2 separate regions of the Homo sapiens genome follow, and region 2 is linked to region 1. The links come from fine-mapping of genetic effects on gene expression. A gene starts in region 1. The other region holds a variant in brackets. All regions are shown on one strand. Distances are from middle to middle. Region 1 holds the start of GDNF-AS1 (GDNF antisense RNA 1). Region 2 overlaps GDNF-AS1 (GDNF antisense RNA 1).

What was found.
Region 2: its variant is fine-mapped to the expression of GDNF-AS1 in cerebellar hemisphere (GTEx, PIP 0.98).

The regions. Positions count from the first base shown.
Region 1 is chr5:37,835,094-37,845,495 of GRCh38, forward strand. GDNF-AS1 (GDNF antisense RNA 1) reads left to right here and starts at 4,791. Exons shown (of 4, transcript NR_145476.1): 1 at 4,791-4,945. GDNF (glial cell derived neurotrophic factor) reads right to left here and starts at 4,948. Exons shown (of 3, transcript NM_000514.4): 1 at 4,414-4,948. RefSeq lists enhancers at 1,055-1,993, 2,345-2,414, 3,872-4,809.
Region 2 is chr5:37,860,814-37,871,215 of GRCh38, forward strand. The region is part of intron 1 of GDNF-AS1 (GDNF antisense RNA 1); the gene reads left to right. Among named protein-coding and RNA genes, the nearest start is that of GDNF, 26 kb to the left of the region's middle. The variant T/C (reference allele first, on the strand shown) is at 5,686.

The sequences.
Region 1 (10,402 bases):
GGCTGCTGTCCCCTCCAGTTAACCCCCCACCCCCACCACCACGATTCCTGTCCAGTCCCCTCTACTGGTGCGCAACATCCCCCATTCCTGGGGGGCAATCGGGTAGTTCCCACCCTTCGTCCTCCACCCCAACCAGAGACCTCCCCTTCTTGTCCCGGTAGCTCCTATAGGCCCCTGAACGAGCCCTCGGCCCAAGCAAGGACGGTGTTTCTCTTTGGAAATAAAATCAAGCGCATTCCCCTGCCTCGGGTCCCAACCGGGCTTCTGGCTAGTCGAGGGCAGGCTCGGGGGCACCACTCACCCAGCCTGCCGCCCACACCTCATTCTTCCCACCTAAATAGGTATTCTGTTGCGAGAGCAAGAAGTTAGCAGGGACTTGGAGACTTTTGGCCTGTATGGGATATCTGGTTTAAGTTACTTAACTTCCCAAAGCACTGATTCGATTTAAAATACTCCTCCCACCTCTTAAAGTTATGAACATTAAATCACGCATGACAAGCTCTAGCGGAACATGTAGTAAGAGCTCAGTAAATGCTTTACCATTGCTGTTAGGCAAAGACTGCATTTGTCTTGAAAGTTTTAATCCTCCGTGGTATACCCGAAAACCCTCTCTTGACTGGATTTTTGCACCTTTGAGAGATTCTGGCCCTAATCCCTTCCCCTCCCAGAGGAGTCACTGGCTCCCCGCGCCCCCGTCACGCCTGGACGACTGTACCCAGTCTCGGACGCTTTGGAGGTGCTCTGGCACTGGAAGGCCTAGACCGTGGTACGGCGCAGAGTAGGGGGTTCAGCTCTTTTCAGCCCGAGGTGGGCTCTGTTTGGCTTCTCAATCCTCACACCCCTACAAAGGAGGGCCACGCAGCTGGGGGTGGGTTAGAAAAAGGGGCTGTAAATTTGGGGGCGAGTTCCAACCAATGAGGAGACGGGGAAGAACCGAGGCATCTTGGGGTGCAGTGTTATCCAGTGCCTTCCTAATCCCAGGGTTCGTCTCCAGGGCACTAGTGACCTAGAGAGAATCTCCTCAAGCGGAATCTGCGAGATTCGTGCAGTCGATTATCCTATCCCCTCGACCGGCTCCATAAAACGGTTCTTAGGAAAAACTCGATTTTTTTTTTCCCATGCGGGAGGGAAATGCAAAACCCAGGTTAATGCAAAAACCTCAGTGCCTTTCCTAGCCATTAGTTCACAGGCACCCCCGCCTCCATTCCAGGGTTCCAGTCCTCATCTCTACCCGGAACCCCACTCCCTGTCCCGGTGCAGGCAACCCGGGGAAGCCTTTAATTCGGCCGCCACCTCCCACCTCTGCAGAGACTAATGCATTTTACATCTCCTGAGCGTCTGTTTGTTCGCTATGCAGCTGTTGGGCTCGAGAGGGTGTAGGGACTAGAAACTCCTAGTGACCTGCAGCACCGAGCGCCTCTTGCCTCGCGGGCTGGTTTGCAAACTCGGGAAAAAGCTAGGTTCTGGGTCGCGATGTGCAGACACAGGAAAACTGCACCAGGCCATGCAAAATGAGCCCAGAAAGGTACTTTGGCAGCTAGGACCTGGGGAACGCGAGCTTCCCCCCTCAAGCCCCCCGCCGGTGCCAGCTCCCGGGTGCGTGCGAAATGGCTGGCGGTCCGACCGGAGGAGCATGGAGGCGCGGGGTTAATGCGCCATTCCAAATCGCGGTGCCCGCCAGCAGGAAGCCACAGAGGCACTAGATTTCCCTTCCGTCTTAAGAGGGTTTTCCCTTTTTTCCTGCTTGGCCGACGGAGGGCTTTTTAAATTGGACGTGGAGATCCTCAATTAGAAGTGTGGCGAAGCTGGCAAAAGACTACACAGTGGAAAACTCCCCGCGTCGCCAGAGGAGGCTCCCGGCTGCGGTTCCCGCCCTCGGCCGAGCGCCGCCAGCGCCCGGATCGAGCTCCCCTCTTCCCCCGGGACAGGGAGGGCGCATTCTTCCCTCTGAGCGCCGCCGGGACCGGCTCCAGTCCGAGGGGCTCTTTCGTTCTCGGTATTTGCTGGGCGGGGGAAAAGGGGGGAGGTTGGGGGACTCGGCACACACAGCGTCTACTAGGACGTTTTTCTTAGAGTCCGTGTGGGCTCCACCCCTCGGCTTCTCAGTTTGTCTCTCTATCGCTTTCCCAAAACACATCTACATCTGCCCGACGCGCTTCTCCTCAACCATGGGCCTTTGCCCGCGGTGCAAACTGCTTTACGCGCCGCCACGTGCGAGAACCAAGCTCTGCTCCTCAAGTGACGGGGGCTCTGCTCTGCCAGGTGACCGCGCACCATTTCTCGTGCCTGGCAAGCTGGTCCCCTTCTGGGTCCGGGACCACCACGTCCCGGCAGGGCAAAAGCAGCAGGCCGTGGGCGCCGGCACCTGTGGGTCCCCAGGCCTGGGGAGGCAAGGACGCCCAGGAAAGCCACAGAAGTGCTCGCAGAAGCAGCCGCTCGCCGCGAGGCACTTCTGAGTTCCCGGCAGCAGGGGGCACCAGAAACCGTCTGAGCCGTGTCGCGCCCACGCGGCCCGGAGGCTGTGTTATCATTTTAGTTATAAAACCGGAGAACCACCACTCCCTCTACGAGCCTCCCGAAATCCCATTAGCCCGGGAACCTGTGGAGGTCCTTACTGGCATCTCTGCTTTTCAGGCTCCCACCCCTCCATTCTCGCTGGTTTTCCTCTCCCCACTTCACCTGAGCGGGTTTCTTGGCAACCTGCTTTCAGACCATCCCTCACCCCTTCCACGCGTCACCGTGACAGATTCGCAGGAGGCAGCGCTCCCGCCGTCAGTGCCCCCGCACCTTCTTGTGCCTGGCAGGCTGGGAGGTTTGTTTGGGCTTTGCCTTCAAGATCCAGGTCTCAGAGAGAGAAAAAGGAGGCGGTGGGGCGGGGAGACGGGTTTGCTATAAACTCGGTTTTTTTTTTTTTTTTTTTGGCGGGGGGAGGTAGAGACAGAAATTGCTGGAAGATCTATTGCTTTTCTTAACTATGCTTCGTGTCCTTGACTGACAGAGGACTTATTCTCCCCTCAACCCCCCATAACTGCGGGGCCCAAGATGAGGGAAGGAAAAAGAATTTGGGACACTTCTCGCAGGCAAACTGGGAAAGCGGTCTGTTTAAAGGGCCAGGTTCCAGGCCCGAGAGCACCCGAATTGCTAGCGGGAAAGGGCTAGGGACACGGCGGACTTCCCAGAGATCGGACACTTGTTACTTGTTGAAAAGGCGCCACCTTCCCTGACAAAGCGAAGGCGCAGCGAAACAGTACGAGTTTGGTCGAGGCCGGCTTTGACGGCTTTGCGGGACTGGGTGCGTGAATGAGGTTGGAAGAAACATCTCTTCCTTGAAATACCTAAGCATATATTCCAAACACTGAGCAAGAGTCGAGCGCGTTCTAACATCTCCGCAGCAGGGGCCGGAAGAGTTGCCTTTGTCCCCGCCTATGAGCAGAAGGGTCGCGAGCTCTGGGATGGGTAAGCCCCCCGGGGGCGCGCACATGGGTCCTGGCGGCGGATTCTACCAAAGCCGAAACTAGCTGGGCCCCAGGAAGCTGGCGGGAACCCGCGAAAGTCCGTTTCCAGCCCGAAGAGGGTTCGTTTTTCTTCGTTGGGGCAGGAAACAAACCACCAGTGCGGAATTAGCCTCGAGGTGGTGTAAAGTAGTGGCAGTGGTGGTGGGGTGTTTTTGGAAGGCGGCACAGAGTACAGGAGAAAAAGGGGTCATTAAAATAATAACCTCAATGGCCTAGTGGAGTCTCAAGAATACGTTCGAGACAGAGATTTGAATCCAGGACTGGCAAGAAAGCCCCTCTCCTAACCTCGACGGGGATGGTTAGTTGGGGTGGAGGGCGTTAGGAACGTGCAGGCAACCGGGTGAGGAATGTAGCTTTGCCAGACCTCGCCCGGAGGAGGTGAGCCCTCCATTTTTAGGTTCTCAGCACCTTTGCAGCAGCCCCTCCCCCGGCCTGCGCTTTTCCTTGGCACAGATCAAAACAAGCTCAATAGTAAGTTGCACTCTTGGCAATGATAGTATCTCTGCACGTCCAGAGAGGACACATTTCGACGGCGGTGGGTTCGAAGATGACCCAAGCCCTGAATCGTTCTGTGACTTGACGGAAGAGCACCTGGCCGAGTCGGGGAAGGAAACTGCCCCTCTTGGGCATTCCGGGTCCAGGCGCATCTGGGGCTCCACAGATCTTTGCCCACGTGGAAAAGGCAACATGCCCCTCCGAAAGGCCGGCCTCTCTCCGGTTCTACTTTTCTCTCTCCTCGCATAGCTTAGGTTCCCTCTAGTCTTTCCACTTTCTACTCTCACCGTTTGCTCTGGGGTCCAGACGCACCCCTCTGACTAGGGCGCCCTTCAGCCGGCCGCACCCACCCGCGACGCAGGCACCACCCGCTCCCTGCTCCCCGGCCCGCTCCCTCACTTACCTCGGATCGGGTCTCCGCAGACCCTAGGTTGGACATTAACTCCAGGTGCCCCAAGTCCCAGCCAGGAGACCCATCCGGGCTGATGGCTGGAGCGCGGAGCCCCGCCCAACAGGTCAGGGGCAAGAGTTCGCAATCCTGGGGTCGCGCGGGGCAGCAAGGGCGCGCTGGAGGCGGCGGCCAAGACTCCCGCCGCCGCCGCCGCCAACAGGGCGAGGGCTGCCGGCAACTCTCCCGCCGGGCCCCCGCACCCCCAGAAGCCGAGGTCCGAGCAGCCGCCGCTGCTTTGGGTGGGGGGCTGACAGGGCTGCGCGCGTCGCGCTCTTGGCTGGGGCTGCGCGGGCCCGGGGCGCTGCGGGCGGCTCAGCGGCAGCTGCCGCGCTCTGCGCCTCCTCTGGGCGCACTGCCTGGGAGCACGAGACTGGTTTGTCTGATGCTGCTGCCGGAGCTGAGGTCTTGCCTGGAGATCCGAACGAGACACCACGTCAACCGGCGCGGGGAGTCCCGTGAAGACATGAGGGCGCCAGGAGCGCAGGCTGGTCTTCTAGAGCCCGGGCTGGGGGTCCGGGGTCCGGGGTGGGGGAGGGGAGGCGCGGGGCCCCGGGAGGGAGGGGTCGGGAGGCGTCGGCTGGGCCTGGCGGTGGGGGAGGAGAGGAGAGCAGCGAGGAGGCCCTGGAGTTCCCGAGGCGGGGGGCCGGGGTGCGAGTGGGCGACGCGAGGCGCCCCTCCCTGGGCTGCAGGGAGAGCGCTGAGAGCGCGGAGACGCCGCGGGGCTAGCGCCTTCTCCTCTCCGGGTGGATCAAAAATCGAGAGGAATGTGCGGCGCTCTGCGCGGGCCAGCCGAAAGGGGCAATCCGAACTTGACCGCGGCGCCCGCGCCGGGCTTTGCCCCCGCGCGCCGCACTGGGAGGGTGGCGCTCTGCCGGTGCAGGGCAGCGCCGGGCTTTCCTCGCGCCTGTCGAAGGCCGGCCTTCCCGCTCGGGTGTCTCGCCCTCTCGCTTCTCCGCAGGGCAGGAGGCAGTGGCGAGAAAAGGAGCTGCCGGCCGGAGTTCTAGCACCGAGAAGGAGAGGTGCGGAGCGGCCGGGTGAGGGAAGCCGAGTATTTGCCAGGGGACGCTGCGAGTGGGGATGAATTTATAGGGCTCTCACTCCGTGACGTGCCCTCCAGTGGCTTTTCTGATTCGCTTTCTGACCTAAACACACATTAGTTTAGTCCCCATGCTAAGGCCAACACGGTCTCCAAATATCTGCTGGCTGAAGTCAGAGGCTTTGCATATCATGTATTACATGGCAGGCAATGAAGAAGGCTTCTGAGGCTGGCCGGCTCCTCAGTCCTAGGCTCCATTTTCATGCTGTTGTAATCTAATACCAGACATGGGGCAGGCACATACATTCAAAATCCCAATTCCAGAGGCGTAAGATCACTTTATCAGGAACGGGTTAGGGGAGGTTGAGCTAAACCTGCTTTTATCCAGATTTTCGAAAATGCAGATGGGAAACTTCAGCAAGCGCCCACTTGGATGCTGAGTTTCCAGCGATCAGGGGCCCGGCCCCCATTCCAGAGCTCTGTGGATGGGAGAGGTGAGACCTTCTGGGCATTCCTTTTGTTGGTTAGTTCACCACCAGAAGCTGCCTGAGCCTTCTTTTGTAGAGGACAGGAGGAGGGCAAGTCCTTACACACCCTGTGCATGGCTATAACCATAAATACATTTCATTCACATGGGGCATGGAATTGGCTGTACCTCTAAAATAATGTACTAAATAGGGCATGTCTTTGCTAAGCAGAAACCTGTTTTCCGGAAGCCATTGGACCTGAATTCAGTGGGACCTCTTTTATTTTATTAGCTGGGGCCAGGGAAAGTGTAAACAGGCTCAGTTTACGTCCATGTACCTCTTATTTTATGACTCATCCGGTTGTTGGGGAGTATGTGTTCTTCAAGTAGCTGATACAGACAATAGGCAGGGGAAATGCGTGTGGCAGTGTGGGGGGAAGATCATGTATTATTAAACTTCTTAAAAGTCAAAGATCAGCTACTTTGCAGGTTTGTCAGTGAAGCGAGTGTGGGAGGAAAATTGTTCTTACTAACGTTGCTGTGATTTAAGATTAAGCGAAGTGAAAATCGAGTCATCAAAACATACCTTAGCTGAAATTAGGATGCTCTCTGGAGTTCTGCAGAAAATGACATTTCCCTCTTTGATAGATTTATGGTAGAAATGTAGTTAGATTCAGAAATTAGAGGGCAGAATAAGCTTAATATATTTATTGCCGTTTAGCATTGTTTTTGGAATTTGAAGACGACCCTCATCAATGTTCTTACTCTGAATGATTTCTTTATTTTTAGAGGGCTTTTTGCTGGGGATGATCAGCCCGTCCAAGCACCTGCAAATATCTAGCACTTGCTGTGTGCCAGGCAAAGTGCTAGGCCCTGGGCATTGTGCTGATTGGGCTTTTTTTTTGGGCGGGGGGCGGGGGTTGCAAGGAACAGATACCACTGAGGTTTACCCTCAGTAATGGGAATTTACTGTGGAAGGAAGGCTGACCGGAATCTCCACCATTCCGCCACGTGTCTCCGAAAAGCCTTCCGGAAAGGCCACCCAGCCAGGCCTCATGAAAACTGGATTGAAGTTCAGGAACTGGAAGGTCATTCAGGATACAGCTCTGTGACTGGGTTATCTCGCTGCCCCCTCAGCAGCAGGCATCTGCCGATCCCCACTAACGGCTTAGCCGCCAAGGTGATTCAGCTCCTCTCTCGCTGTTTTCCCCTGGGTGTCCTTTGGCTTCTGCTCCTGCTACCAACTGCTCAGCTCTCAGTTGATCTCACATTTAAACTCCTTTAGTGAAAGGATCTAGTTTGTCCTGCTAGGGATTCACCAGGGGTGAGAGTTGGACTGAGCCTTTGTATCAGTCTCCTTACAGGTTGCAAAACACCCTGTATATCCGCAGACCTGGGGGCAGGTGCCTATCCTGGGCCAATCATTCATGTCCAGGTTGTTGGCATCACAGAGTACACAGCCTGGCCACCTTTGCTTGAGATACTTCCTAGAGTTCCTCCCCACATTCCCTCCACAGAGGATGGTCCCTCAGAAGGAGGTGGGTTAATGGTAGGCACTTTGGGTTTTGACAGTCCTCTCCCAGCCCTTCAGAAACTACCACTACAGAGAGGGAGATATGCTCATGAGTATTGATGGTATAAAGTGATAAATACTCCAACAGAAGTATATATGAGACTCATGTCCTGGAGTCTGATTTTCACATGGCCAGTGAAACACTGGGGAGATTTCAAAAAATACCCAGACCTGTAGGCTGGAAGTGGTGGTGGCTCACACCCGTAATCCCAGCACTTTGGGAGGCTGAGGTGGGTGGATCACTTGGGGTCAGGAGTTTGAGATCAGCCTGGCCAACATGGCGAAACCCAGTCTCTACTAAAAATAGAAAAATTAGCTGGTTGTGGTGGTGGGCACCTGTAATCCCAGCTACTTGGGAGGTTGAGGCATGAGAATTGCTTGAACTTGAGAGGTGGAGATTACAGTGAGTAGTGATTGCACCACTGTACTCCAGCCTGGGTGACACAGTGGGACTCTGTCTCAAAAAAAAAAAAAAAAAAAAGTCCCAGACCTAGGCCTTGTTCAGGGCAATTAAATCAGAATCTCTTGAAGGGTGGAGCTCAGGAGTTGATTTTTCAGATGCTCCCAGGTTAGTGAATTGGCTTTATCTTTTCCCAGTGGTTGCAATCATCTTATGATTCTTTTTGAAAGCAAAATGAAGAAGCCCTATTTTGATAGGTTCTAAGACTAAGACTCTTCCAAAACATTAAATTCCTTTCAAAATACAAAGTATCTTAAAACAGTAATATAAAGGAAAATGTTAAATTTAATTTAGAATTAAAGCAAATATTTCTAATTTTGAAAGAACATTTATTTACATGGCTACAGCATACAGATGAATTCAGCAAAAGTTCCTTCTGAAGTGACTGCCTTGAATAGAGTTAAGATGGGAAGCAAACATTTGGTGTCTTGGGAACAAGGGGATGGCCTGATGTCACAGTCTCACGCCCCCATAAGCTGAAAGTAGGGAGCCCCACAGCTCCGAGGCTCCAGCTTCTCTGTTCTCAAGGAAACGGAATAGTTTGATTTGAAGCTGTTCCTCAGCGAAGTCCAGAAGGGAAGAATTTGCAGCACCGACTCTGCTCTCAATAGGCAGAACATCCTCTGATAAAGCAACAACAGCAACATACTGCTAAGGATTCTCACATTGTCCCCAGATCTCAGCTTTTTATCTAGGAAGCCCTGCCTGAGAATCAGAGAGAACAAACATTGTTCAAGCCTCCCATCTCCTCTTTGAGAAAAAAGGTTCGAAGCCCTGCTAATTTCCTATTTCATCGCTATCGTCCTCTTCACTGGGATTTCTTGTGAGTCTCTAACTGAAAGTTGTCTAAATGATCGGTGCAATTTGTGCCCAAGGATCTTACAGTCCTTGGGAAGAGAAAACACAACCATAAAATGATGAAAAATAATACAGGGTATTATAAGGTTATGGAACTCAAACTAGCCCTTGATTGGAGTAAGTAAGCAGAGAGGAGGTGGGGGTGAGGGGACATTCCAGGCTGGCTGAAAGGGTCGCTGGAGGAGACTGGATGCTAGGTACTGCCACATTCTTGCTCAGCCTCTGTGGCCCTGTAGGGCTGCAGCCTGTAGACGTGATGGGGTGGGTGGGTCAGCTTTTGGCCATTCACAGAGTCCTTGGCGAGCTCCCAGTGGGGCTTTGCAGCTGCTTTGACTATGAGGGCCAGGACCCCGGTCCCTGGACTGCCTCATAACTTGGGTCGTGAGGACTGAAACAGAATCCATCACTTAAGCAGAGCAATTTCCTTTTCAAAGTCACAGCTTTATTGGACTGCGATTTGTTCCATGCTTGCTTGCTTTTTAACAGCCATTTTCACGAATGATCCTATTACTCATGAAGGAAAGATAGATTTGCCTTCAGACCACTTAAAAAAAAGTGAAAAGAAAAAAAGAAAGGGGAAAAATTCACTGTAATGGCCTTTTTGCAAGTAGTGGGAAGTGACAAATTCTTTGGAGTAAATCGTTTCTCATAAGAAATCAATCCTGACATTGGCAAGGGAGATTTATCAGTGATTTCCAGCAGTTTCTTTCATTAGGATCAAATTGTCTCATTGTCCACTAATTTTGTTTTTGGCTCTTGAAATTACTTTGTGAAATTTCTCTTTTCCAGAGATAAAACTTCAATCAGGTGAGAGTGTTGCGGCAGACTTTCTTACTATGCAAATGGTCTGATGGCTTAGGTCTGGGGTTAGCAAACATTTTCTGTAAAGATAGTAAATATTTTAGGCTTTGCAGGCATACTGTCTCTGTTGCAACTTCTCAACTCTAGCCTTGTGTTGCAAGAGCACCCATAGATGATATGTAAATGATAATATAATTTTTTCCATGTTATGAAATACTTTTTTGATTTTTAAATGTAAAAACCATTCTTAGCTCATGGACCATACAAAAGCAGGCAGTGGACAAGATTTGACGCAAGGGCTATGATTTGCCGACTCCAGTATAGGTTAAAGTTATCACTTTGATGAGACTTATCAGTTCCAGAATTGGAAGGGACCTGAGACTTCTAGTCCAAGCTCCTCATCTTACAAGGGGAGAAAATGGAGGCAGAGAGTGGTTAAGTGACTTACCCAAGGCCACTCTGACAGTCTTACCATCCAAGTAAGTGTGCTATACAATTATTTCACTGGTTTTATATGTGTGTGTGTGTGTGTGTATGGAAGGGGGCACACGGGGAGTGTTCTGTCACCTTTCAAATTGTGATTTAGTATATTTTATTGAGGCAAGAAATGAGTCAAAATTCAGATAAATCAACTGGGATCTCTATTGGGGGCAGAGGTTAATGTCAGGCTGAATGGGGAGCAGAAATTTGAACAGAAGTTGATTGCTGCCTTTTGGAACAGCAAAACTCCCAGGCAGAGAGCAGAGC
Region 2 (10,402 bases), 26 kb after region 1:
CCAGGGTTTTCTACCAGCTCCTGCCCATCATTGGTTGAAGGCAGTCCTGCCATGCAAGTGGCTTAGTGGGCTCTGGAGGTCTGAGGATGCCTTTATGCAAAGAAATGCTGGTTTGGCAACTGGAAGTCAGACTACTGAGTACTGAAGTGATGAGTGCCTAGGGGTATGGGTGGGCACCAGCAGCACCTGCTATGGTGGTAGGGGGGCATTTGAGGATGTTGGTGGGGCTGATCATGAAATATTTCTCTCTCTGCATTAGCCATGTCAGTAGAAATAGCCTCCTTGAGGTTATTTGAAACAAATTGATACTCACATTACATCTTATAAATTAAATGGGATTGAGGGAGTGGAGCATTTAATGAAAATGGTGATGGTCTTGAGAACAGTGTAAGCAGTTAATACTAATTTGTTCTCCTATGTGATAAGCGTGGCTTCTCCTTTTTCCAGATGAGGACATTGAGGATCAGAGATGTTGAAAAACTTGCCCAAGGATGCACAAGTGGAATGGTAAAGACAGGATTTGAATTCTGACCTCTCTGACTCCGTGTCACAAACTCCTGAAAGTGTGAAAGGTTTAACACAAATTCCTTCCCCGCTCTTTCTCTCTCTCCCTCCCCCCTCCAACTTTTCCCTTTCAACAAATATTTGAAAACTTACTATGTACTGGGCACTATTTTAAGCACCACATAGCAAAGAAACAATTTTGGTCCTTTTTGATCCTGATGATCCCCCATCCCTCCCTTAAATGTTTTTCCTTCCCCAGGTCCTTCCCTAACTTTTGTGGGGCCCTGCAAGTGTAAAAACAGAGGCTCATATACCATACCTAAATATTTAAAAGTGATAAATCAAGCTGGCAAAGTGTTAAATAAAAGATGCTCCATCCTCCTGCCTTGATAAAGACACTTGTGCACAAGGGCTGCTGTGCACTGAGCATCTGTGGGTTTTGGAGCACCATGGAGGAATGTGGTGGCTCAGAGGGTGTGGACATTTAGCCCATGGCCTGTGGCCTGTCCCTCATTTCTTCCCACCCTGGCAGTCCACATAAGGGGGTGGTACACATATGTGTGTGGACATCCTAGCCTACACATCCAAGCTGTATCCCACAAACAGCACCTCATGGCTTAGGGGTGTGTGCACTGGCGGTGTGACCTGCCGTGGAGAGAAAAGGCCTGGGGAAAGCTCTGGAAGTGGACTTAAGACCACTTGGACAGGGGATTCAAGGTCTCTCGTAGCCAAGACATAGTCTGAAAGAGGAGAGGCAGGCTGCAGCCTCCAGGTGGGTACATCTCTGTGCCCCTCAACTCTTCACTCCATAGGAAAGGGCACAACCAGAGGAGTACTGTGGGTGCCCCTTTCCTGGGCCTAAGAGTAACAGCGCTCCTCCCCGTTCTATTTTGTCTTCCAAATCCCACGTTCACATGTGGATATTTTTTGAGATTTGGCCATCTGAGGATTTTTATAAAGGAAAATGTGGAATTCAAACACTCTACTTGTTTAACAGAGAGCAGGTCCATTGAGGTGGGCAGATGTTAGATGTTACTGGAAGTGGAGGAATGGGATTTTGGAGAGACCCGCTGGCCTCTCTGGAGCTACATGGACTTCCCTGCATTCAGCAGCCCTAGTCTACAGAGGGAGAAGCTAGGCTACCCCGGCCTTCTGTCTTGAGACCTTGATGGGTTCATCCCAAACCTCGGGAAGTGGATGCAGTTTAGCAGGATCAGCTCTGCGCCCTGTTCACTTCTCCAGCCATGAGGACTGCAGCTCTGGATAGACTCCTAAAGCACACACGAAAGCAGTGCTTCCTTTACTGGGCCAGATTCTCCCCGGGGGAGCAGACAGAAGCCCTCTAACCTGAGCAGTATGTGCTCATGCCAGTGTGCATTTTCCTGTCTCCCCTGGGGAAGGTTTAAATCCTTTATTTATTAAGAATTTAATTTCTTTATTTATTGGTTTAAATTCTTTATTTATTAAGCCTGCACAATGTGATAGAACACTATAGCAGACAGTCCTCGATGTTTAATTCTTAAGAAAATAGGAAACTATGTATACATTTCCCTCCATTTAAATTCTATTCACTTCTCTCTTTGTGTTAGGGGAGGTACTGAGGAACGCTGTTTTCATTTGCTTTTACTTTTAATATGGTGTTACTCAGAACCAGTAGGGTATATCTATTAATATATCTGTATCTATATCTATATCACCTATATCTCTATCTATCTATCTATCTATCTATCTATCTATCTATCTATCTATCTATCCATCTATCTACCTACCTATTATCTACCCATCTATATTATCTATCTGTCTGTCTGTCTGTCTGTCTATCTATCTATCTATCTATCTATCTATCTATCTATCTATCTATCTATATCTGTCTATAGATAGATACATGAGAGGGGATTTTTTTAAGGTTTTAATTTTGATACAGGATCTCCCTCTGTCACCCAGGCTGGAGTACAGTGGCACAATCATAGCTCACTGCAAGCCTCAAACTCCTGGGCTCAAACGATCCTCCAGCCTCAGCCTCCTGAGTAGTTGGAACTATAGATACACACCACTGTGACTGGCTAATTTGTTTAATTTTTATTTTGTAGAGATGGGTGGAGTCTTGCTATACCTCCCAGGCTGATATCAAACTGCTGGCCTCAAGCGATCTTTCTGCATCAGCCTCTCAAAGTGTTGGGATTACAGGCGTGAGCCACCGCAACCAGCTGGAAGCTGGATTTTTAATGTTTCAAAGTAGAGCAAGTGGGGTCGCCCATTAGGGAACACATCCCAACACCTTTTCTCCTCTGGGTGGCTCCCATGTTCATATCTCACAAGGTGCTCTGTGCTTCAGGATGTCTCTGCAGTTGCTCTTCAGCCTCCTCTCACTACACGGGCCAAGGGCACTGTTTGATGTTTGCAGCGTGTCCTCTTGCCTCCCTTCAACCCTTCAACTTATCTCTTTCCATTTGCATTATCCCTGGCCAGATATATGCTGGGGGTCACTCATACGGACTCACAAAGGCCAATGTTAAAGTTTCAGGAATGTTGTGAACCACTTATTAAATACAGCCATTATAAAAGTGAAATGGCCTAAACTTACATTTAAATATATTTCATTAAAAACAAAGGTAGTAATAATAATAATAAAAATTCATTACTTACAAATTATTTTACTATATGTTACTATTATCTATGCTGTTGGGGTTATTTCAGTCTATTTTAACTGCAGGGTGGAAATATTGTATAACAGTGTGCTCTGCTATGCCCTTTTCCCAACTGTGTGTTTCAAAATGATGTCTCGTTGGAGCTTGAAATCAGCCATGGTTGTAGTATTTATTTCATGTAAATTGGTAAACATTATGAATCAGGAGTCCCTCCCTTATCCAGAGAGCCTGTTGTTAACATTTACCAGCACACCATGATCTGTAGCTCTCAAATCCTTAGATCAGAGTTTCTCAGTTCTAGCACTATTGACATTTTAGGCCAAATAATTCTTTGTTTTTTTGGGGGTGTCACTTGCATTGTAGAATGTTGAGCAGCATTTCTGGATGCCAGTAGCTTCCCCTCCCCAGTTGTGACAACCAAAAATGTCTCCAGATGTTGCCGAATGTTTTCTGGGGGATAAAGTTATCTCCACTTAAGAACCACTGGCCTAGACAACATTATCCTTTAATGTAAGTGACTTGCTATTCTTCCCTTTTAAACTTTAACATGCATCTGACAAATATTCAGTGCCCATTATGCATGTAAATACAATGATGAACAAGATAAGCATTGTCCCTGTCTTCATAGAACTCCAGTCTAAAATCATGGACTAAGCTGGAAATATACTGAGTATCCACTAGGACTAGAACATGCTATCTGCATGCTAATGTGCTCAGTAGGTGATCTTGATCTTTATTAATTCCATTAACACTAATTGCAACATTGTATAATGTTTGCATTTCCCCTTCAGGTGACTGTTGTCTCTTGGGCACAGGTAGCTGCCAACAGGTGAGCCTCTCAGCGGATCCCTGATAGAGGTAGGATGGCAAATAGCTTCTTTAATATGACAGCCTCAGTGTAGTGGCTGGCAAGGAGCTGCGATTGGGAGGAACTGGAAGTGACACCCAAGCTCATTGAGCAAGCATGCTGTGAGTGCCATGAGTAAGTAGTCCCAGCTGATGAGCTTATCAGGGGGTTGCCAGCGGGGGTACTGCCCAGGGTGGAGATGGAATGGGAGACATAGCCATACCTCAGAAGGATATGCAGCTCCTACGAGGACCTAAGTGGAGCTGGGTCAGCATGGCCCCAGTAAGCACACAGCAGGCAGATCAGCCACAGACTTCAGCATCAAGGCCTTCCAGGGTGGGAACTAGATGAACTGGAGGACAGGCCAGGAACCTGCACATATGAATCATGTGGGCCAAGGACCTTCCTCCCCTTTCCTACCACCATGAAGCAGACCCTTCCCCCAGGAGTCATCTTGGAGAAAAATGGGAAAGTGGAGCAGTGGTAGGGGGCAGGGGGTGCTGCAATACCAAAATATCCAGAAGGCATTTAAAATTATTGGACTAGATGACATTTAATTCTCCTTCTTTACTCAGTAAAGTGAAGAGCTCAGGAGAAAGATTGGATCAATTATAGAAAATAATGAAGGTACATTTTCTTTGCATAACTAAATGTAGGGTAAGTACATTTTGAATTTGCTAAAATTGTCTTTGCTCTGCCTCTGCACACGTGTGCACACGTGCACACACACAAATGGCACTTCTGGGAGTTTTTCCTTGCTACCACCTCCTCTCAATAATCAATGCTCACGAAAGCATTTGTGAGAAATGTGGAGTTTACTGTGGAGATTCAAAGGGAAGATGATGGAGGTTTCACTGTAACCCCCACAACAGATTCATATTCCACTTTGATACTGTGTTCATCATTTCCAATATATACCTTTTTCCTAGTTGAGTATTTGAAATCTTGGAAACCAGACTCTGTCTTGCTGTGTTGGTGTGTCATAGTATAATTGGCAGCATGTTTCCTTTGGTAGCAATACATAAGACAATGGTGTGTCTTATGTTGATGTCTTCTTATATTTGATAAAATCTTTTAAGTCTACTGCTTTGCAGTCCTTCCTCAACTGCAAGCAGAGGCTTCCCCACTGAGGCCATTGAGTAAAGTGGTTCAAAGTACAGTCTGGAGTCAGACCATCACTTACTATCTCCACCATTCACAAGCCAGGTAACCTTGGGCAAGTTACTGAAGGGTTCAGGGGCTTTGTTTCCCTACCTGTGCAATGGGGATAATATTATTAACTACTTCATCGGATTGTAGTAAGAATTAAATGAGTTGATATATATAGAGAAATTGGAACAGTGTCAGGTGGTGGTGACTTCTAGAAAAGTAGTTGTTCTTATACGTATTACCTCTTTAGTCCCCTCCCACATAGGCCCTGCCTCCTGTTACCTATTGCTTTTTCTTTCCTCCCTTATTTTATAAATAATACTTCAGTGACCGCTGTTTGCTATTTGAACACAACCTTGAGATCTCTCCTCTCCTTCCCAAATGGCTTACCTAAGTATTTACTCCAAACAAATATGTTGTCTTTTAGAGATACTCTGATAAGTAAAGATTGCTGTATGTAGTAACATATTTTTATCATTATTTCTGATGCATCTATGGTAGATGCAAGAGATAGTAAGATATGAGCTTGACTGGAGC[T/C]GAGCTAGCTTGTTGGGGAGCATTAGGAAATAGGATGGAAAAAAGATAGGTTGGAGACAGATGGCACTTGAAGAATCTCCCCTTTGAAATCTTTGGTAAAGTCTACAATATGATACCTCTCCATACATCTCTAAGGAGGCTTTGTATTTTGATGACAGCCTTGAATGCTAGGGACACCCAGCCACACGGGCTAACTCATACAGGGCAGAGAGGACTTTCACCCTCTTTAATTCACCGTGTATGAGTGGCAATGTTTCTTCCCAAATATATGGCTGGCCCTAGGAGACAAGTCAGGGCATGTGAGCTGTGGATGTGAACTGAGAGAACAGTTGGGGCTTAGGTGAAAAGTGGAGATTCAGGAACTCTTCAGATATAGTGGCCTTAGGGAAAGATAGATGTATTAGGCCATTCTTACATTGCTATAAAGAAATACCTGAGACTGGGTAATTTATAAAGAAAAGAGGTTATATTGGCTCATAGTTCTGCAGGCTATACAGGAGGCATAGTGCTGGCATCTGCTCAGCTTCTGGTGAAACCTCAGGTAGCTTTTAATCGTGGCAGAACGGGAAGCGGGAACAGGCATGCCACAAGTTGAAAGCAGGAGCAAGCGAGAGAGATTGGGGATGGTGGTGGGGGGTGTTACAGACTTTTAAATGAGCAGGTCTCATAACAACTCACTCACTATTGTGAAGATGGCACCAAGCCATGAGGGATCTGCCCCCATGATCCAAACACCTCCCACCAGGCCCCTCCTCCAGCATTAGGGATTACGATTCAACATGAGATCTGGGTGGGGACAAATATCCAAACTATATTACTAGGCAGTAACAAAGAGACACCCGGCCCTTCTGGGTTCAAGGTGTGCCACAGGCCTGCATGTCCTCCTAAGCTTTTCTTAGGTGGTGCCAGAGTTTGAATGGCTGCAGTCCTGGCATATTCCTCAGTGAGGCTGGAAAAAATAATCCACTCCTGCAAATGGAAAATTTCTTCTGTGTAGGGTGAGCACTTCCAGCTCCAGAAATGAAACATGCTAAAGGCAGCGTGTGACTTGGCATGGGGTGACCAGTAACCCAACTGATCGGTCCTCTAACCTGTTAGTTCATTTTGCTGGTGATCTTGTCCATAAGGGCAAACAACTTTCTAGCTGGTCACCTTTGGAACAAAGTAAGAGTTTTTGAAAGAGGATTTAAAAAAATTCTTTTTTGGTTTGTTTTGGGTTTAATGAGTCAATGCTTTATTTTACTATGAGTGTTTATAACCAGACCTAAATGTATGTAGGATCTTGAACCTCCCCCACAACTATTTCCTATTTGTTCCCAGAAAAATTCCAATGCCAGATTTTGCCATAGCAACCAGAGGCAAATATCAAGACAGCAATAAAGAGCAAGCTGGAAAAGGGTTTCCCTACAATGTGGCTTGAGTTTCTGTAGGGCATTCCATCCTCCGTGTGGAGCTCTGGAAGGCAAGAGGGGGCCCTGCGGTTCCTCGTGGGGGGGTCTGGTAGAGTCCAGATTTGCCAGCATCCAGGACCCACTAGGAAATGTGTCTGTCAGGCAGCTGGGCTGGAGCGGAAGGATCAGCTTGCCTGCTCCTCGGGCTTGGCACCTGTTGTGTGTTGATCTTTATTTTTGTACGTCAATTTTTCAAAATTAAAGGTATTGAATTATTATTTTTCCATTATGCTTTTCCTCTGAGCAGTTTAGTAAACAAGCCTGTTCTGTATTTCCTAATTGTCCCCTCAAGTGCTCTTTGGAAGAAGGCAGTGCATATTTAAAAGTAAGCAAATGAAACCAAAGAACAGGAGATTCTTCCAATATCTGCCCACGATGTCCCTCATTCTGTGTCCTTCCTTTTTGTCATGGTTGTTAGGTAATGTTAGGAAGTCCCACTTCTTTCCCATAGGTAAAGTCATCTCACTACAGTATAGCCTTCTTGCTGAAAGAACTTTGGGCTTCCGAGTTACTTCAGGTGCTGGTTTGGATTAGCGGTGTGTTGATAAATGTTTAACAACTCGCTCGCAGACATAAAATTGCCTTGATTTGTAGAGCTGATTTGCTGATTTCTGTGGTGTAAATCCTCCCACCATGGCAGATTTCATCTTACCAGAGTGACCTCATGAACATGGAACTGGAAAGAGATGCACACATTTAACTCTCATGCACTGGTAAGAGCTGGCTGCCCCACACTGCTGGTTCTACCGATCTAGGCCTGGGTTTCTCAACCTCAGCACTATTGACATTTTGGGCAGAATGGCTGTTGGTTATTGGTGGCTGTCCTGTGCATTGTAGGATGTTTAGCAGCACCTGTGGTTTCTACTCACTAGATGCCAGGAGCAACCCTTCCCCACTAAGTTGCAACAACCAAAAATGTCTCCAGATTTTGCCAGATGTCTCCTGAGGGGCAAAATCTCCCTTAGTTCTGGGCTATTCTGCACTGATAGTGCTTAGAAGGTCCATTCAGCAGGCAGTAGGCCTGCACTGTTAGCTTTTCCATGAACCACTCTGAATATGCACCCAAAGAAGTTCTCTCTTGGCATTTTGGATGTGGTGCATTAGTCTGTTCTCATGCTGCTAATAAAGGCATACCCGAGACTGGGTAATTTATAAAGGAAAGAGGTTTAATGGACTCACAGTTCCAGATGGCTGGGGAGGTCTCATGATCATGGCAGAATATGAAGGAAGAGCAAAGAGATGTTTTACATGGCAGCAGGCAACAGAGCCTGTGCAGGAGAACTCCCCTTTATAAAATCATCAGATCTCATGAGACTTATTCACTATCATGAGAGCAACATGGGAAAGTCCTGCCCCCATGATTCAGTCACCTCCCACCGGGTCCCTCCCACGACATGTAGGAATTATGGGAGCTACAATTCAAGATGAGATTTGGGTGGGGATACAGCCAAACCATAACATGTGGTATTGCAAAACACTGAAAGTGTGCTTCCTTGGGTAGTCTTGAGAAGAGTCATGCTGTAAGGACTTAAGGCACCAAAAAATTAAGACACAGCAGGGCCAGTAGGAGAGCATCAGGGTAATTCCACTATAGGATATATCCTATATCCATTATAGGATAGTTTTGACAGACTGCAGAGGTCCCTTAGGCAAACCTTTCCTTTGTATGGGTGAGAAATTAGACTCAGGGACAAGGTGTGACTTGTCCAAGGGCAAGGTGTGGATGTGCTTGGACAGTCACAGGGGTGTTGTGGTGAATGCTGTGAGACGCCTGTGTGACATACTGGGAATTAGAACTGACTCCAACTTGTAGCTAAATGTGTTTTGCGGGCTTTTCAATGTTGGGTTTGGATGGATATATTCTGACATCTCCCTGTCCCCTACCTCTCTGTCCCTTTGGAAATATCTGCTTATGAAAACCATATTATAATGAGGGATTTCTGTTTCAGATAGAATTATTCCCTTCAGCTTCAGGAGTGAGTTGATTATTCACATGTTCTTTTTAGGGGGTTTAAGCTGCTAGTCCTTAAAGAATAGATGCTGAAGGTTGTCATTGATTCCTCTTTCCTTCCTCCCACGTCTGCTCTGGGCCTTCTCATTGATGTAGTATCTTAGGTTACTTCCAAAATAATTTGAGAAATGGATTTATAGAAGAAGCTAGCTTTCCAGTAGAAAAGTTTAGATGACAAGATTAATGTGATAAGAACTAAGAAAGCCCTTCCTAGTTTTCATTGAAAATGTGTTTTTAATGCCCAGAGGTGCCCAGTCAAAAAGGAAATATTACAGAAGGATTATTTTCATCAGCAGAGTTCTTGGGCATTGCAAGTTCCAGTGTAATTAGGGAAATCACATGCGAGTACATCAATACACTTCAGATGCCAATACATTGGGCTTAATGAGGACAACAAGCCTGCTTTTATTAGGGGATTGAATAAAAGTGAAAGGAGTTCTTGAAAAGAATTGGTAATTTTGGATGGGATAATTCATCACTTCACTCCAGATCAGTTTTTCACAGTAAGAAGTGCTGGCTCTTCAGAAAATTTGGCATAACCAAAGTTTATTGTCACTATCTCCTCCTTCTCACATTGTCCTTTGTCGCACCCCCAGCAGGTCCACAGTGATCCTGCGGGCCACCCCCATGGACCCTGCCCGTTTTCTTCCATCGGGGGCTATCTTACGTCAGTCTTTCAAGGTCTCCTCAGTAATGCAGGCCAGTTGGATTTTTGCTTTCTTTTCCCAGAGGACAATTCAGCCTCAGCGTCTTAGTCTAAAAGGATTCATGCAAGCGTGTCAGATGTTTTATTAGGCTAAGGGGGAGGTATTTTGGGTTGTGGGGAGCACTTACTGCAACCCTGTATGAAATTCCCTACTCAGTGATGTTCAGGCTGCACGGGCCAACATGGAAAGGGCTTAAGGGAGATGACAAAAACAAAATCTCTTCTTCCACAAAGATTTTCAGTTGATCAATTTTGTTACTTTTTTGTGATGAAACTATCTGCACTGCAGCTAATGATTTTTTTCTGAAGGTGGAAAAGGTAGGAGCAACAGCTTTCAGTTCTAAGGATACATTCTGTTGACCTTCATAAGCCCTAGGAACTAGAGGGGCAAGATTGAGGAGGAAATAGAGAAAATAATTTGCTCTATAGTATTTTCCCCCTGAGCTGCCATCTGGGGCTTTCAGAGCTTAGCACTGCACTCTTGCAATGTTGCACACACCACAGGAGCAATATCAAGAGATGTCAAACATGAGTGGTATTGGTCACTGG